Linked DNA regions of Homo sapiens: all the other regions are reported to be linked to region 2. Evidence: microRNA targets listed by miRTarBase, many of them from high-throughput screens and not tested one by one. Region 2 holds a microRNA gene; each other region holds the end of a gene's coding sequence.

Evidence for each region. Region 2 holds the annotated microRNA hsa-miR-1185-2-3p (AUAUACAGGGGGAGACUCUCAU, at 1,576-1,597, opposite strand). A microRNA usually pairs through its seed, bases 2 to 8, with sites in the 3' UTR of a target mRNA and lowers its output. Matches are read on the target gene's strand: a 7mer-m8 pairs with bases 2 to 8, a 7mer-A1 pairs with bases 2 to 7 and ends in A, and an 8mer does both.
Region 1: miRTarBase lists IRF2BP2 as a target of hsa-miR-1185-2-3p. Seed matches in the 3' UTR shown: 8mer at 3,464-3,471 and 7mer-A1 at 1,644-1,650.
Region 3: miRTarBase lists DIP2A as a target of hsa-miR-1185-2-3p. Seed matches in the 3' UTR shown: 7mer-m8 at 2,333-2,339.
Region 4: the mRNA of DCAF12L2 is a reported target of hsa-miR-1185-2-3p. Seed matches in the 3' UTR shown: 7mer-m8 at 2,820-2,826.

The regions. Positions count from the first base shown.
Region 1 is chr1:234,603,548-234,607,762 of GRCh38, forward strand. IRF2BP2 (interferon regulatory factor 2 binding protein 2) reads right to left here. Exons shown (of 2, transcript NM_182972.3): 2 at 722-4,215. The coding sequence ends at 3,590. Among named protein-coding and RNA genes, the nearest start is that of IRF2BP2, 4.5 kb to the right of the region's middle.
Region 2 is chr14:101,041,513-101,045,846 of GRCh38, reverse strand. It overlaps MIR1185-2 (microRNA 1185-2), which reads right to left and starts at 1,649; the gene lies at 1,564-1,649. It overlaps MIR1185-1 (microRNA 1185-1), which reads right to left and starts at 2,870; the gene lies at 2,785-2,870. MIR381HG (MIR381 host gene) reads right to left here and starts at 690. Exons shown (of 3, transcript NR_104192.1): 1 at 663-690. RefSeq lists an enhancer at 1-82.
Region 3 is chr21:46,567,318-46,571,532 of GRCh38, forward strand. It overlaps DIP2A (disco interacting protein 2 homolog A), which reads left to right. Exons shown (of 38, transcript NM_015151.4): 38 at 53-2,698. The coding sequence ends at 305. Among named protein-coding and RNA genes, the nearest start is that of S100B, 36 kb to the right of the region's middle.
Region 4 is chrX:126,160,752-126,164,966 of GRCh38, forward strand. It overlaps DCAF12L2 (DDB1 and CUL4 associated factor 12 like 2), which reads right to left. Exons shown (of 1, transcript NM_001013628.3): 1 at 2,748-4,215. The coding sequence ends at 3,782. Among named protein-coding and RNA genes, the nearest start is that of DCAF12L2, 3.4 kb to the right of the region's middle.

The DNA of each region.
Region 1 (4,215 bases), not on the chromosome of region 2:
GTTGCTGTTTAATTTAAAACATATAGTAACTCTATGTATATCCTAGCCTCCAACTCTTTATGAGTTTCACAACTTCCTTTCATAGAGAAGTCTGCCAAGCCATTAATCAATAAAAAGAGTAAAAGCTGCAACATCTAGGAAATTTCTTATTATATGAGAGTAGCCAGTAAAATGTGTCTCAGTGCTTTCTACCTTTTATCTCTATTTATAAATTTAAGTTTCAGGATATCAATAAAGCTCATACATGGCTTTGGCTTTTTTCATTCCTAAGCTTTCCAAAGTATAAGGCTTTTTTTTTTTTTAAATCCCTTTTGTCTTTAGCGCATTTCCTATGGCCCAACGTAGCTGTTTTATTCCAAAGCTTTTCAAAGAGCAGCTCCAGGTCTTGAGAGTCTTTCCAGTGTCGTCACTATCTTCTCTTTCCAATCTACCATTGCAGAATGGCTGGTTCTGCTGCTAGTTGAAAAATAAACAAATGCTTTCTAGCCGTACTTTGTTCAGCTCTTTTATCTGTGTCCCCTATCCAGTTGCCCTTTCCGCAGTCCCTGGCACTTCTATTTTATACCATCAGTTGCCTTTTTGTTCCATGTCTTTTATCTCCTGAAGTTCAGGCAAACCCCAACCCCAAACCCACACATCCTTTAGTCACATTGCCATTAGTGATTAAAACAATAGCCATTCTAAGCTTGCTTTAGAAAATTAAAAAAGGCCTCAGAAAATGTTCAGTGCTCCCAATTTTATTTTTATTTAATGCTAAAAGTTAAAGAAAAAAAGGTACTGTAAATCTGACAAATGACAGAATTCAGGTGATATTTCCATAGCGTGATTTTAAAATATAATAATGTTGGTATCTGAGATTACACTCACTTCAGTTGACATGAGTTTCATCATATATAGAAAAAGTATCACCTTCAACTTAAAAAAAGTAAAGGTTAAAAGGTGGCACACTTTTAAAATACTTGGTGGCCAAGGAAAGGTATATAGTAAAAGTTGTAAACCATGTGTATGTTCTCATAACTTTAAATGTGAGGCCACATGAAAGACAGTACATCTGTTAAATTCTATAAATTGTTAAAAGCAAAAAAGGGAAAGCTTCAACACCCCATCCCCTAATATTTTGAGTATTAAAAGCACAGCTGAAATATTAGGATTTGAAATCTGATACTGCCCATGTACAGTAAGTAGCTTTGTGACATTTTTATCCAGCTGTGGAGAATCTCTGCACTGTCATCAGGTACAACAAAAGATCAAACCCATGTCCCGATGTTAACTTTTTAACTTAAAAGAATGCCAGAAAACCCAGATCAACACTTTCCAGCTACGAGCCGTCCACAAAGGCCACCCAAAGGCCAGTCAGACTCGTGCAGATCTTATTTTTTAATAGTAGTAACCACAATACACAGCTCTTTAAAGCTGTTCATATTCTTCCCCCATTAAACACCAGTACAGAGAAACCACAGGTTGCCCTTTCCACAGCTGGATAGACTTATCCAAAACGGCAGGATGGTTCTGTATTAATCTTTTTGGAAAGCATGTCTGTATTAAGATTGCAAAACATACAGATAGCTACCACAAATTAGGTCAAACGACTGATCAAGTTGTAACATCTGTGAGGTCAAATTCCAAAGTGCCTAGATACACATTTATACAACAGACCATAAGAGCTGAATTCTTTACAAATGTCTTTATGGGCATGTAAAATTGACTCTGCATTTCTGCATGTGTGCATTCACATAAGAGAGACCAGTCTGCACTGAGTCATATATACTCCAACTTGAAAAAGTAAGTGTAACAACTGGTTAATCATGCAAGTCTGTTTGTAATATAACAATGACTGGTAAAACATGAATTCTCGCACAGTAGTAATAGGTGCACTCATTAAAAACACTACGGAAAAACACTGTATTTGGTGCAGTATCTGATTTTCAAGTGTTAGTAACTTGACCATTAAAAAATAGTTTTGAACAATTTAAAAAGGAAAGACAAACATATAACTAAAAAAGAATCCAAAGTTGGTAAAAATCTGTATTTTCAAATGTAAATAGAAGCTAGGCTGTGAACCATACACATAAATTGTAGACCTTGAAGCCATAATTCAGCCTAATTATAAGGCCAAGTTACAAACACCTGAACGTAAGGATTTAAAATAGTGTTCCTGTCAATGTTAAATCATAACAGCACAAAAGAAAAACCAGTATCACTGTGAGACAACTATTTCTAATAATTGATGATTTATTGGTTTTAAAAAAATCATTTTACTGATGCAAAATAGTGATCAAAAGAAATTAGTTTACAAAAAGACTTCTAAAAATATTTTGAGAGGTGGGGCCTGTCTATTATATAAAACCCTTAATTTCTTTAATTTCCACTAGTTTATCATTTTTTTCCAGAACAGTATTATTCACTTGGTATTTCAAACACATGTTAAGAAGGAAATTACAGGTTTCCTCCACCCACATTTGGGCTGTCACTGATATGCCCAAGGGCAGTCCTGGCAGCACCACGCGGCTGTTACTGTCATTGTACCATACTGTATTCAGCACTCACTAGAAACAGGGTATAGGTGATAGTATCAACAGCAATAGCACTACAGGTAAATGATAAACAAAACAAAACAGAAACAAAACCAATCCCACAATCTCCAAGTTCACCTGGACTGTAACTTCTCTTGCAACTCTTTCAAAATAAAGGACAACAGCAACAACAAACAGACCTCTAGGGTGTTTAAAAAGATGAAGTGGCGCTGCAGAGCTGGGCTCTGCTCAAAGATGGCAGTGCCATCTTGTACACACCACCATCCATTATAACCGCCTTCCATCACTGGAATTGTATCTTATGTAACCAACTAGCATGCAGCATTGTAATCTTACAACTGATCACGTGGACAGTGAACAGCGGTCAACTTTGTCTTAAAAAAAAAAAAACAAAAAACCCCAAAAGACCACACAATCCTGAAAATTTCCCAGCAGCACTCTCAGTCATCAGTATCTCAGGAACTGAACTTTTGAGCAAAATAGAGATTCAAAATCCACTTTCCTACTCCTCTGAGGACAATGTTTCAGGGTAAACTGGTGGTATTTCCCAGTGGCATGCCCACTTGACAACATGCCCGTTCGATCATTTCCTTTCCTTCTCCACCACTTGGCCTCCGGCCTGAGAAAGGGGCCAGCAATAAGGAATGACAGACAGTAAGGCAATCTTACAATGTCAGAAAATGTATTTGGCTTTTTTTTTCTTTTTAAAATAAGTGCATACAAATACAGCTAGAAGCATTTCTGATTTGCCAAGTGCTCTAAAAAAGCAGCGCAAGTCACAGCCTACATAGAACGGTAACTGTCACCAGGATAATAAAGCACAAAGATATGCTAATAACGTTAACAAAAGAAAAAAATGTCTTTATAAGTACATACCTTTTGTCGTCAAAAAAAATATAGAAACACAATGTATTCAAAAAAAATCAAAATTATACAGCCATGTTTATGAAGTCTACATTTCCCTTGTCTTGGATATATATATATATGGAGATATATATACAATTCAAGCAGTTTTAATTAAGGGTAATCATTGGGTTTTTCTGAAACCGGAAAAGTCACGAGTCTCTCTCTTTTTTCACTTTCACATCTCCAGCAAGGATGGTTGCAATTTCCCCTTGCATAAAGGCCCAGGGGACATTGGAGCCCACAAGAGGGCATTTTTCCCCACTGGGACAATAGACCTCTCCACTAGCTCCCTGCTGTTTGATGCTTTGTCTGGAGCAAGGGAAGCAGAACTTGTGCGAAGGGACGGACGGGCACTGCACAAAATGGGTGTCCTCCAGCCGCTCGTGGCAGAGGGTGCAGCACAGCGGGGCACTGGTTGCCAGAGAGGAGTCCGGGAGGCTGGCAGGGTGCACTGGCTCCAGTCCTCCTGTGTTGCCTGCTCCCTGGCCCCCCACCTCTCTGGGGCCCAGCCTTCTTTGGTTCATAGAGGACGGAGAGGGCGGACTGTTGCTATTCCTCCTGGTAGTGGAGTGAACCTGGTTGGCATCTTTTGAGGCATGACTGCCCCCTGCATTGTCTGCTACTAAGATCAGGGCTGCCATGGGGGACTGGCCATTCTGGGCCGCTTCAGGCGGTGTGGTCCGGTTGGAATGAGGTGAGGCAGTGGGTGGTGGCGGAGACACAAAAGAGGATGTAGGAGTCATGGGGATCTTGAGCCCCTCTGTGGATGTGGACA
Region 2 (4,334 bases):
CGGGGGAGGGGGTGGGAGATGCGGGATCAGCAGACCAGGTGGCAAACACCACCTGCCAGCTGTGTGCCCATAGGTCAGCTCTCCATCCCAAAGGGGCCAGGAAGGGGCAGACGCCAGTGCCCCTTCACCAGAATCAGCCTCTTTTCCAGGCATCACTCCAGATTAGAACTTGTTCCTGAAAAGGAGATCCACCCCACGGGCCTTCCTGGGCACACGCAGAGCTCAGCTTCTCACTTTCTATAGGAATTCCCTGGGGTGGGACCACCATCTCCTTCCCAGTGTGGGCACCTCTCCAGGAAGTTTTCCTAAGGATGCACTCAGCACCGAGGTCCCAGGCACTGGATGAATTTACACCTTAGACAAAGCAAAGGCCCTGTGGTCACCATCCCTTCATCCATCTCACAGAGCCGTTGACACCAGTGTCATTCTCCATGCCAGCCCTTGCCCCACCCCTGCCAGAGGCTGGCATCGTGGCCATGAAGCCATGCTAAGAAAGAGCACAGGGTCAACAGTAGTAAACCCCACGTACCCCCAAGTAACTGAGGAAGCAGACCCACAGCCCATTCCCCACAGTGGTCTCTCCTTCAAGAAGGGGAGAGGAGCGGGAGCCGCCTGGTCCAGGTGGCAGGTTATGTGACTCATTACCCAGGCGTGGTGCTCACCTCTCTTCAGCTGGACGTTCGCTTTCCTTGGGCTGAGGATGCTGCGAATGTCCTTCCTGAAGCTGGCTTCGGGTCCAGATGACCCCCATGGCAGTCGGGGTGTAAAAAGCCGGCAGTCACACGGCCCAAGGAGTGTCTCCACAAACACAGAACAAGAGTCCCATTCTCAGGCAGCCATCCTAGGTGTGAGCAGAAAGCCAGCAGTCAGAGACGGGGCACAGACATCGAGGCAGAAGCAGGCGCCCTCTGACCTCCCACATGCACGCACCTGGTGCGGGGCTGACAGCTCCCACGGCTCATCCCCAGCGCTGCCTTCATGGGCAATCACAAATGACAAATAGAAGCAAACCATTCTTACAGATTCAGCCTGGGGACTGCGAGCTGGATCATGAACACCCAAGCATCAAAAAAAAAAAGCGCTGATGAGCACACCTCAGCCCCTTCCCCAAGGTCAATACCACCTCCAGGAAGCCCTCCTGGGGCTGGCCTACCAGGCTCGAAAACAGCATAGACAGAGCCAGTGCTCCGTGGTCCACCATCACTGCTGTCTGTGTTCCCCTTGAAATGATCCAACATCCAGGTCCCCCTTCTAAGGCTGATGCTGGGAACAGGAAGCCTTCTGTGTATGACTTGGTACCAAGAAGAGGCAGATCAATGTGTGATTTATCCTTAAAAAAGCAAACCACCATTAAACTTGGAGCACACAAAAAGGTCCCTCCTCTCCCACTGCTTCCAGGGAGTCCACAGGAAGAACCAGCATAGAGGGCGAAGGCAGAACCCAGGGGCAGCGTCACAGCCAACCTCACGTTCCCGGACATGGAAGCCAGGCCATACCTGAGAGGGGCTGACATCCGAGGCTTTGTCCTGGAGACAAGCAGGGTATGAGTGTCTTCTCCGACAGTTTGATACGCAAATGAGAGTCTCCCCCTGTATATTCGCCATTAATCAAGTGAACATACAAAGGGTATCCTCTCTTTAAGTACCAAAGGGTGGCTCAAAGAGCAGGTGAGGACCATGCCGGGTCTTTGCCGGAGTGGACATCTCCTCCTGCGAGGCCTGAGACCAAGGGGGAGGGGCCCGGTGACAAGCCTCATCTGGCTGACCCTGGAGCTGGGCCTGCACCTTGCACATTGTGGCCTGGCCCCGAAAGGTGGCACATCCAGGACTCCCTGCAGGCGAGACTGGCTTCTAAACAAGGGAACAGGTAGGCATGACTATCAGTGTGCTCAGCATGCATGGGTGAACCTGCTTCAAATACCCACAAGCTACATGGACAATGGAACCATCACCTTTCTCCAAAGGGGCACAGGGTGTGAGGGCTCAGCCCGGCAAGACATGGAGTTATCAGAGAAGAAGGCATCTGCAGGCATTCTCAGAGCTGGAGAGCGCTGAGACAATGTCTCTCCTCTGAGGCTGGTTGTCCTAGAGATGACCAGATCCAAGAATGTGTCACCTGTACCTACCTCGAAACAAACAAAAAGAGGGCCCCAGCGTCAGACTCTAGCGACAAAGGAGTCCTGAAGACCAGACACACCTGCCCAAGGCACACTCAGGTGCAATCACTGGACAATGTGCTCCGAGGACTGGCCATTGGAGTCCAGCGACAGTCCCAGAGGGCACAGGCAGGCTCAGGGAGCTCCACCAGTAACTTGCCTTAGAACAACCTGACATCCATGTGCTTCCCTCAAGGCTGACACTCTCTCAAGGATGGAGACCACCAGGGAGTGGCAGGTCAGGGGAGTAGCAGGTGAGAAGCAGCATCAGCTCTGCGCTCCACCATCCACCACCCATTCGTGTGTCCGGAGAGGTGCGAGGTTAGTGCTGGACGCAGGAAGCCCTCTGGGTATGACTTGGTATGGAGAAGAGGCAGATCCATGTGATTTATCCTTAAAAAAAGCAAACCACCATTAAACTCAGTGCACACAAAAAGGACCCTCCTCTCCCACTGCCTCCAGGGAGTCCACAGGAAGAACCAGCACAGAGAGCGAAGGCAGAACCCAAGGGCTAGGATCACAGCCAAGCTCACGTTCCCAGACAGGGAAGCCAAGCCGTACCTGAGAGGGGCTGACATCCGAGGCTTTGTCCTGGAGACAGCAGGGTCTGAGCGTCTTCCTCGACAGAGTTTGATACGCAAATAAGAGTCTCCCCCTGTATATTCGCCATTAATCAAGTGAACATACAAAGGGTATCCTCTCTTCAAGTACCAAAGAGTGGCTCAAAGAGCAGGTGAGGACTATGCCGGGTCTTCGCCGGAGTGGACATCTCCTCCTGCGAGGCCTGAGACCAAGGGGGAGGGGCCAGGTGACAAGCCTCATCTGGCTGGCCCTGGAGCTGGGGCCTGCCATACAGTTGACTTTACTTCCCAGCATCTCTTCACGACAGGATTGGTTACCAAAAGACAGGCAATCCTGTACCATTTGAAATAATGTAAATGTAAAATGGCTGAAATCCCTTTAGGGCCTGCAAAAACACCCTGGGAGAAGAACCTCTGCCTCTGCCCAAAGCCACTGCCTCCAGGAAGCCCTCCTGGTGAACACTGGCTAAGGGAGGTTAGAAGATGCAGTCACATGCATCATTAAAGAAAAAAGAGAAACAGAAATCCAACGCACTCCGTTTGCAAATCACAAAGCAGCACTATGACAAGTGTCCCTTCTCCTGAATTTGGCATTGTATTCAGAAAGCCATCTGAGCAGTTAGTTGTTACTCAGAAGTATTCATCTAGGGCAAGATTCGTCAAAGGAAAATGAGATTCTCATGGGCCAACTCTCTCTGAATAAACACATGCTAACACCAGGAATCCAAGGGTCTTTCCATTGGCAAGAATCCCTAAAGGACACCAATGGACTAAGAGAGCAGTGGGGCTTAGAGGTCCCAGCAGCAAGTCCTGTAGCCACACTGGGTGCTCTGGGGCCTCCTTCCTGTGGACTGGCCTTCCCTCAAGTGGACAGTGAGGTCCAAAAGTCACTCCAAGGATGGGCTAGGTATGGAGAGTGGGTAGACCAGATGACCCACATCTACATTAGACATTGACTTTGCTGACGGTCATTCTTTCATGTATCTGGGAGATGCACTGACCACGAGACCTCTTCTCAGAGGCTGGCATCATGCTGGGCAGACCTGCCGGAGTAGCAGCCCATGGATGCTTTGTGATAAGTAGGGCCCATCAAGGGAGGCCCTTTGTTCTTTTCTTTTTTTTTTAACCTATTGTGTTGAGACAGGGGTCTCTGTCAGCCAGGCTGAAGTGCAGTGGCACAATCTTGGCTCACTACAACCTCCCAACTCCCGGGCTCAAGTGATCCTCCAGCCTCAACCTCCTAAGTACTGGGACCACAGGCGCACACCATGACACCCAGCTAATTTTTGTATTTTTTGCAGAGATGGGGTTTCGCCAAGTTGCCCACGCTAGTTTCGAACTCCTGGGCTTAAGCCATCCACCGTCTCAGCCTCCCAAAGGGCTGGGGTTACAAGCGTGAGCCACCGTGCCCGGCCAAGGTAGGCCCTTTTTGCTAGGCAGAACAGGTGGTCTGAAGAGAAAACCCTATATCATCTCCAAAGCCAGCATCTCTTCCAGAAAGTTCTTGGAAGGAAGCATGAGATGAGGAGGGTCAGAGAACCAGGTCACAAACAGCAAGACAGAGGCACATGCCCTGTGGTCAACCATCCACACCCCAG
Region 3 (4,215 bases), not on the chromosome of region 2:
CCCTGTGACCTGTGCCTGTATCCATGTGACCCAGTCTGTCTTCTCTCTGCAGTGCCGTATTCACCTGGACCAACCTGCTGGTGGTGGTGGTGGAGCTGGATGGGCTAGAGCAGGATGCCCTGGACCTGGTGGCCCTGGTGACCAACGTGGTGCTGGAGGAGCACTACCTGGTCGTGGGAGTGGTGGTCATCGTGGACCCAGGGGTGATCCCTATCAACTCTCGGGGTGAGAAGCAGCGCATGCACCTGCGGGACGGCTTCCTGGCTGACCAGCTGGACCCCATCTATGTCGCCTACAACATGTGAGCGCAGCACACCGGCCCAGGTGCCGGAGATGAATGAGCCCCAGCAGTCCAAGGTGTGATGTGGGAAGACACCGCAGAGCTCACTCACCGGGACTCGCCCTTCCTGTGCTCTTACAGATCCCTCTCAACAATCCCCGCATCTCCTTTTAGAAAGCACTTCCTGAATTATTTAAAGAAATATTTTGAATCTGCCAAGTACATTTACAAAAACACGGATGCTGGTATTTTAACAGATGGAGAGACAAGGAAAGGAAAGGAAAGGCCTGGCATGGGCATTGTGAGGAATCACAGGCACCGAGGTTGTTCTCTGCTGTACTGCAAGTTTGCACTTTCTTTAGGCTAAAAATATAGTTCCTGATTTTTAAAATTCAGTTATTTATTCCCACTTCAAATGACAAGTTCATATATAGAATTTACGGGAGAAACTTGAGACCATTTACGGGGAGAAACTTGATTCTGGGAAGATAGCAGAGTACAAACCAGCTGCCTCACTTCTGTTTCACAGGGAGGCTGATGGAAAAAGGAAGCAAGCTGGACCCATCCTCCCTGCTCACAGAGGGCACTGTGGTCACACACAGTGCCTCCTCTGCCAGTTCCTTTATTGAAAGAGGTGTGCTGGCTGGCCACGGTGGCTTACACCTGTAATCCCAGCACTTTGGGAGGCCGAGGCGAGCAGATCACGAGGTCAGGAGACCGAGACCATCCTGGCTAACATGGTGAAACCCTGTCTCTACTAAAAATACAAAAAATTAGCCGGGTGTGGTGGTGGGCGCCTGTAGTCCCAGCTACTTGGGAGGCTGAGGCAGGAGAATGGTATGAACCAGGGAGGCGGAGCTTGCAGTGAGCCGAGATCACGCTACTGCACTCCAGCCTGGGTGACAGCACGAGATGCCGTCTTAAAAAAACAAAAAAGAGGTGTGCTGCTTGTCAGCATGTATTGTCACGGACACTCAATAAGTGCCATTTTGGACTGTCAAATTTAGATGCTTTGTTTCAGAAAGATAAGCCAGCATTTAGTTTTAAATCACTTTCCTGGTTTGTAACTTGATGCTGTTTAGTTAAATTGCTAGTTTTCCTAACACTACAATATTAATTCTTCTCGTGGAAGTGTACTGATTTATTATTTTTATTCCAAGTCAGCAGATTTGGAAGCATTGTGGTAAAGTCTAAGGTTTTCATATCCATAGTGCTGTTTGGTGAGTACCGGCAGTACAGTTGAGGGGAGCAGGGAACAGCATTGCCCCGTATTGAAGGTGGAGATGGTTACATTCTTCACTGCTTTTTGCATTTTGAGTTGTGTGCCTATAAAATTTGGCCAAACCATTTTATTATTTTGTTCAAACTTGACTAAGCTGAGTGATCTAAAATTATACAGAACCTAAATCAAAGAAGAGAATGTAAAGTCCTTTAGTTACTTCTAAGAATTTGAAGTCAAGCACGAATCTAAGACATAGATTATTTTTATATAGCTAATGAAGAGTATGTTACGAAATTGTTGGGTTTTTGGGGTATTGAGGGTGGCAAATTTTGTGAATCATGCATGCTTCACAGAAACAACCAGGTTTTTCCAGAATTAGTCTGGATCAGTGCCTAACAAAGCTGTTATTAATTCTCCACACATGAGTCTGGCTAACTGGGCCAGCTCTCATGTTTTACTCCTGTCTGGCTACAAATAGCACTGTGCATAGTAGCCCTGTTTCCCCATGGTGTTGGACTGTGGTAAAGTATGTTGTGACATACTGGAATTCTAATAATCCTGTTGTAAGTATGTACAGAATCTATGTAACTTATTGTTGACATACAGAGGTTTGGGAAGTAGTCTAATGGACATTCCTTACAATAGAATGGCTGGGAAGGGAAAGAAAAAAAAAAAAAAACTACCTAACTCCAATCTTAATGTTGTAGTTTTATAGCAAACAAAAATTGTCAGCTTTTTGTATTGAAAGGTCAGTGGTGGTAAGACAAGGTGTCTTGTAAATTAAGATTTTAAGAAGTGCATTAAAATGTTTTAGAATTACTCTGGGAATTCTGTATATCACACTAAAATTTTTATATCATTATGTTAATAAAAGTTATTGACTTTGTAATTCTGCATTTTGAAATGTGTGAAAAGGGTCTTTAAATTACCCCGAATAGGTTGTATCTTATTTTGCTTTTTTTCTGACTATAAAAGCAGTTATGCTTATAGCATAAAATCTAGAAAGCACATTAAAGTATAAAGAAAATTAAAATTTCTTATAATTCTACCTCTGAGTAAACAGCAGCATTCGTATGTAACATAAACCCTCTCAGGGATTTATTTTTTCTTTTTAAAAATTTTTTACAAAATTAGGATCAAGTGCTTTTTTAAATAATTTGCTTTTGTACTTAATAAATTATAGACTTTAAAATCTATTACATATATTCTTCTACATGTTTCAGTGGCTGTATTTTACAAGTGTGCCATGAGTAAATGTAGTATTTGCTGTATTGCCGTACATCAGCGTTGTTTCAACAGGACTGCAGTGAGCCCAGATGCACGTTTACACTGCCATGATTACAATTACTGCCTTGGGCTCAGTTCTTATAGGTAGAGTGAGTGGGTCAGAGTTCATGCCAGGTGTGAAGCTTTGGGTACCTGCTGCCCTCCAGAAGGGCAGGATGACAGCATGGAAAAGGCCTCTTTGCAGATGCCAAGTAATGTTGGCAATGGACATGTGCTCAAGATTAAAATAACTCTTTAACAATTTGATAGGCAAATAAGTGTTGTGTCTGGTCATGTTGAATATGTCCTCGTGTTCATGGCCATTTTTAGTTCTTATCTGATGTATTTTGTTCAGATTTGGCAGTCCTTATGGTCAAGTTTTTTCTTACTGACATGTAGGAGTCTCTTTCTATTAAGAATTATAACCTCCATATACTTCTTACTTTTTCTTGTGGGTTATTTGTATTTTGGTTCTATCTGTTTTGGTGCAGATGGTTTTTTAGATGTTATATTTATGCAAACTGGTTATTGTGTTTGATTTCAGATTATGAATATAGCTGATTTATTTCAAAGTGGTTCTACTGGAATGATCAGCATAAACCAATGGGGAGTACATGGCAGAGAAATAACTAACCTCCAGTATTTGCCTGGTTCCTGCCACAGTGCTGGCCTTCATGTTGGCAGTTCCAGAAGTGGGGTTGAGGGAGAGAGAGAATACTTGAAGAAATAATGGCTGAAGACTTCCTAAATTTGATGAAAGACCTGAATATAAGCATCCAAGTAGCTCAACAAATTCCAAGTAAGATGAACTCAAAGAGACCACACAGATACCAACATTTCAGAAGCCAAAGCCAGAGAATTTTGAAAGCAACAAGGGAGAAGCAACTTGCTACATACAAAGGATCCTCAGTAACAGGTCCCCAAGCCCTGGGCCACAGACTGTTAACAGTCTGTTAGGTACCAGACCACACAGCAAGAGGTGAGTGGTGGGTGAGTGAGCATTACCACCTGAGCTCTGCCTCCTGTCAGATCAGTGGTGACATTAGATTTTCATAGGCATGCAAGCCTTCTTATGAACTAACTGCACGTGCCAGGGATCGAGGTTGCACACTCCTTATAAGAATCTAATGCCTGATGATCTGAGGTGGGACAGTTCCATTCCAAAACCATCGTCCTGTGCCCCCTGGTCTGTGGAATAATTGTCTTCCACAAAACCAGTCGCTGGTGCCAAAAAGGTTGGGGACTGCTGCTCAATAAGATTATCAGCAGATTGCTCATCAGAAACTAGAGGCCAGAAGGTAGTGGGCCAATATATTGAAATTTAAAGTAGTTTTTTCTAATTCTGTGAAGAAAGTCAATGGTAGCTTGATGGGGATAGCATTGAATTTATAAATTATTTTGGGCAGTATGGCCATTTTCACGATATTGGTTCTTCCTATCCATGAAC
Region 4 (4,215 bases), not on the chromosome of region 2:
GCTTGTAATTATTTCTTCTCTCTCACTTCTAATAATTTGCATTTGTGCTCTTTTATTGTAATCCTGTGGAAAGCAGTATCCTCCTCTGGACACCTCCTTTGCTTTTTGCAAGACTGGGAAAGTTGGCAGAGACCTACACTTGTGGTATTGAAGTGAGAACTTAAACAGGGGCTCGCAGCAGCTGCTGATGAGGTGATATTCCACTGCTGTGAGACTGTCAAGGATGCTGGTGCCAGCTGGGTGTTGGGAATACTGGATATGTCTCAGAACAGGAGAATAAGTGGTCCAGAAATAATTAACTCTGAAGCCCTGCTTTGTGAGCTAGGTCTGACTTTTCATTCTCCAAGATAAAACCAGCAGTTGAGCAATTCAAAAGCCTAATTAGTGGACCAATGTGGACAGTCTTAAGGAGTCGTAGGTAAATATTTAGGAAGATTATCTGGGAGAAAAGCTGTCCTTTACGGCTTTTAGGTGGAGACTCAAAATCGTTATAATTTTAGTATTAAAAGATATATTGTTGTCTCACGCTAAGGTCACAAAATTTGTGTAGAATAAGCCTCTATCATTCTCTACCATTTTCTTCCCCATCCCAGCTTTTTTTTTAAATTTCCTTTTATTTACTTATTTGTTTGTTTATTTATTTATTGAGACAGGGTCTCACTCTGTCACCCAGGCTGGGGTGCAGTGGCATGATCTCTACTCACTGCAACTTTAACCTCCTGGGCTCAAGTGATCCTCCCACTTCAGCCTCCCGAGGAGCTGAAACTACAGGCGCGTACCACTACACCCGGCCAAATTTTGTATTTTATGTAGAGATGAGGTTTCACCATTTTCCCCATCTTGCTCTGGAACTCCCGGGCTCGAGCAATCTGCCTACCTTAGCCTCCCAAAGTGCTAGGATTACAGGTGTGAGCCACTGAGGCAGGCTTTCTCTCTTTTCATTGTTTTAAAGATCCTTCATATGCTTTTCTCTTCTACTTTCCCCTGAAAGGACAAGATTTCCAGTGTTTCATAGCACTCACCTTCCCAGAAGTGAGAAATTGCATCCTGGGGTACACAGCCAATTCTTCACTGGGTATGTTCTCCTGATGTCACAGAGGCACCTCAAATTCAGTAAGTCCCAAGTTAAACTGATCATCCTCCCCCATACTATCTATGCCTATTTTCTTTATTTTTATTTGCTGTCAATATTCATTCACATTCAAGTCAGAGCCTGAGAGTCCACCTAATTTTTTTGGTTTTCCTCATCTTTCACATGAAATACTGTTTGTTCCTTTTATTTCCCCTCATTGTTTTGAATAACTTTCTCCCTCTCCACACTTACCCCACTATCCTAGTTCAGATTTTCGTGGTCTCCTTCTTGGATTTTCTTCAGTGACATCTCATACGTTGGGTATAACTTAAACTGGGTGCAACAGACCAGGGAAACCTACTAGGTCCAGCTAAGTATATAAGGAAAGTAGCTGTGTGTAATCCATTTCCAGGTACATGAGCCTGAATGGTGGGTACTCTCTTCCTTTAGCGTGGCAGCATTTTTACTGCTTGCCTTCATTTTCTTGTTCTTTGTTTCAGAACCCACTTGGTACTCTGACAACAAATTGAATTAACTCAGCCACAGTGGCTTAGAAAGAAAGGATCAAGATCAAGTAGATGTAAGATTGGCAAAGAGCACAGTTTGGTGACACACTGTTGGCATGGGTGTGGTAAAGCAGGTGTGCATCCATTACTTGTAGGAGGTTAAGGTGGTGAGAACTCCTTGGAAGATGATTTAGCAATGGCTATTAATATAAAATGAACTTACTCATTGAACCAGTAATTTCATTTCTCGGAATTATCCTGCAGATATATTTATGCTTGTACACAAAGATGTATACACTTAAGTAATCACTGCAGAATAGTTTACAGTAACAGAAAACCAGAACCAACATAAATGATCATCAAAGGTGTAATGAATAAGTCAAGTGTATTCCAATCACACAATAGAACAGCATGCAATAAAATTAAGTAGATAAGTATAAGAAAAAATCACTAAGATTTTGTGATTAAAAAGGCACAGATACATACAGTATGTTATTATTTGTATAAAAATTCCATACACACATACATGTGTTCTTGTATATATATAGACTAAATCTAAATATGTATATGCAAAAAATATACTAGTGCTAATCTATGGGCTGGAAACTAGAGACCCCGGGGTTTGAGATTTACTTTTAACTGTATACTTTTTATACTGTATGGTTTTTTGATCATGTGCTTGTATTAAAATTATTTTAAATTGGCATAAAACAAAACACAAATAAAGACCAAGTGGTAAGTCTTAATATGTGTAGTTCAATATATAAGAAATAGCTGCACATATAAAATGATATATATCTATGCTTTCTTCTCACATGGGAAGTAACATATACAAACAGATATACAAATATATTATATATGTAAGTAGTTATAAGTACATGTATATTTGTATAAATGAAAAATGGTTTGTTCAGTCAACTTTAAAAAACACTTAGCCATCCTAACTTACACCAAGTATATTTTCATAACGTATTCAAGATGTTGTTTAATCTTTTAACTTATAAGTTTCATTTTCAAAAAGAGATGTACAAAGTAATGTCTGCATAGCTAATGCTTCAGATTCAGCTTCTGTCCTGGAAAGTTTTGACTTTGATAAATACGTTCTCAGAAAGACAAATGAAAAAAGAAAGCATATATTTAAGTATTAAGAACTTAAGTCTGCCACTTAATTGCTAAGATGATGAACACATTTTATTTATTTTTCTGCAACACATCACATACTGGATCCAGAATTATCCATGTATACAGTAATAAAAAATCAACACCTACTCTGAGCACAACTGCCACAACTGGCTTTTCACTGTAAATAGCTACCTGAATTTAAAGAGATGTGTACCCCATATACCCCCAAAAATACCTCCCTGATTGCACTACCACATATATAGACCAGAATTGAGTAGTTCTGAAAATCTGTAGCATAGAAAAGCAGGCCATAATACAGCGGCTTTAAATAAGAACACGGAGGGCCTGAGGATAGTAAAGTTTTACTGAATAACCAAAAATGTTGATTAATAGTATGAACAACATTGTAAGATTTCTAACTAACAGAACATATTTTTAAAGCATTTTACACATCAACACTATACAAACAACAGACATTGAGTTTCCAACATCCAAATGAATCACGCCCTAGAATGGTGTGTGCCACACTCTAGAATGGTGGCAATCTAGAACCTGAACTGCATTTTGTAATTAGAGTAAGGCTATAAATGATGGGTAGTTCCTCAAAACAACCCCAAAGATGCTTTGTAGCTCACATTTCCCCAAAACACCACACATCTAACATGTGTAAAAGATCTGAACACTATTGCAATATTGATAAAACTAACGTACTGAATAGTAGTGAAGACTATGACTACATCAACCTAAAGAAGGAGGGTATGTGAATCACTGAAAGACAGAACACAATTAAGGTTTAGCCAAAACTCTTTGAATGAGAAGGCAAAAATATACTGCTGTTGGGAAACGTGAATGAGAGTTTTAAAGCCAAAGTTTTGACTGCCGAAAGGACCACTTGTGCTCTCTCGCTCCCGCTCTCTCTCTTTCTTTCTCTGCCTAATACATTAAGCACACGTAAGTTGGACTGGTTCCACCTGGAAGACAAAAGCCACACAAAGTTAAAAGCACAAATGCAGCATGAAGAAGGAAAGTCAGGCGGAACTGAAAGGTAAACCTGTGCACTTTGAGAACAAGGCGTCCATCCTTAACTCCAGAGGCCTGCGTAGTTCCCATGGAGGCCTGAAGGGAGAGGCCCCCCAGCCACAAAGAGCTTCATCTCCGGCCAGTTGTAGCAGTGGGTGTAGAGCGCATTGGGGAACTCTCCCATGCCACCAAAGTAGTTCACCCAGACGTCATCTTGGTTGAGCCAGCCTCTGCCGCAGGCAAGCTTGAGCTTCCTCCCTGCGGGCCCCGGCATGGAGTCCAGGCTGGAAGAGGCCCTCTCCTCCAGGAACTTCTGGGCGCGGATGTCATAGAAGAGCAGGGAACCATGGCCGGTGCCCACAGTGATGATGTGCTGGTAGAAGCTCAGCGACCGCACGCCTGTGCCACCCTCTCGAGAGCACAGGGGCCGGATGTTCTGCTGGCGCTGGCGCGGATCCAGGAAGGAGACGTGGGACTGAGAGCCCACAGCGTACA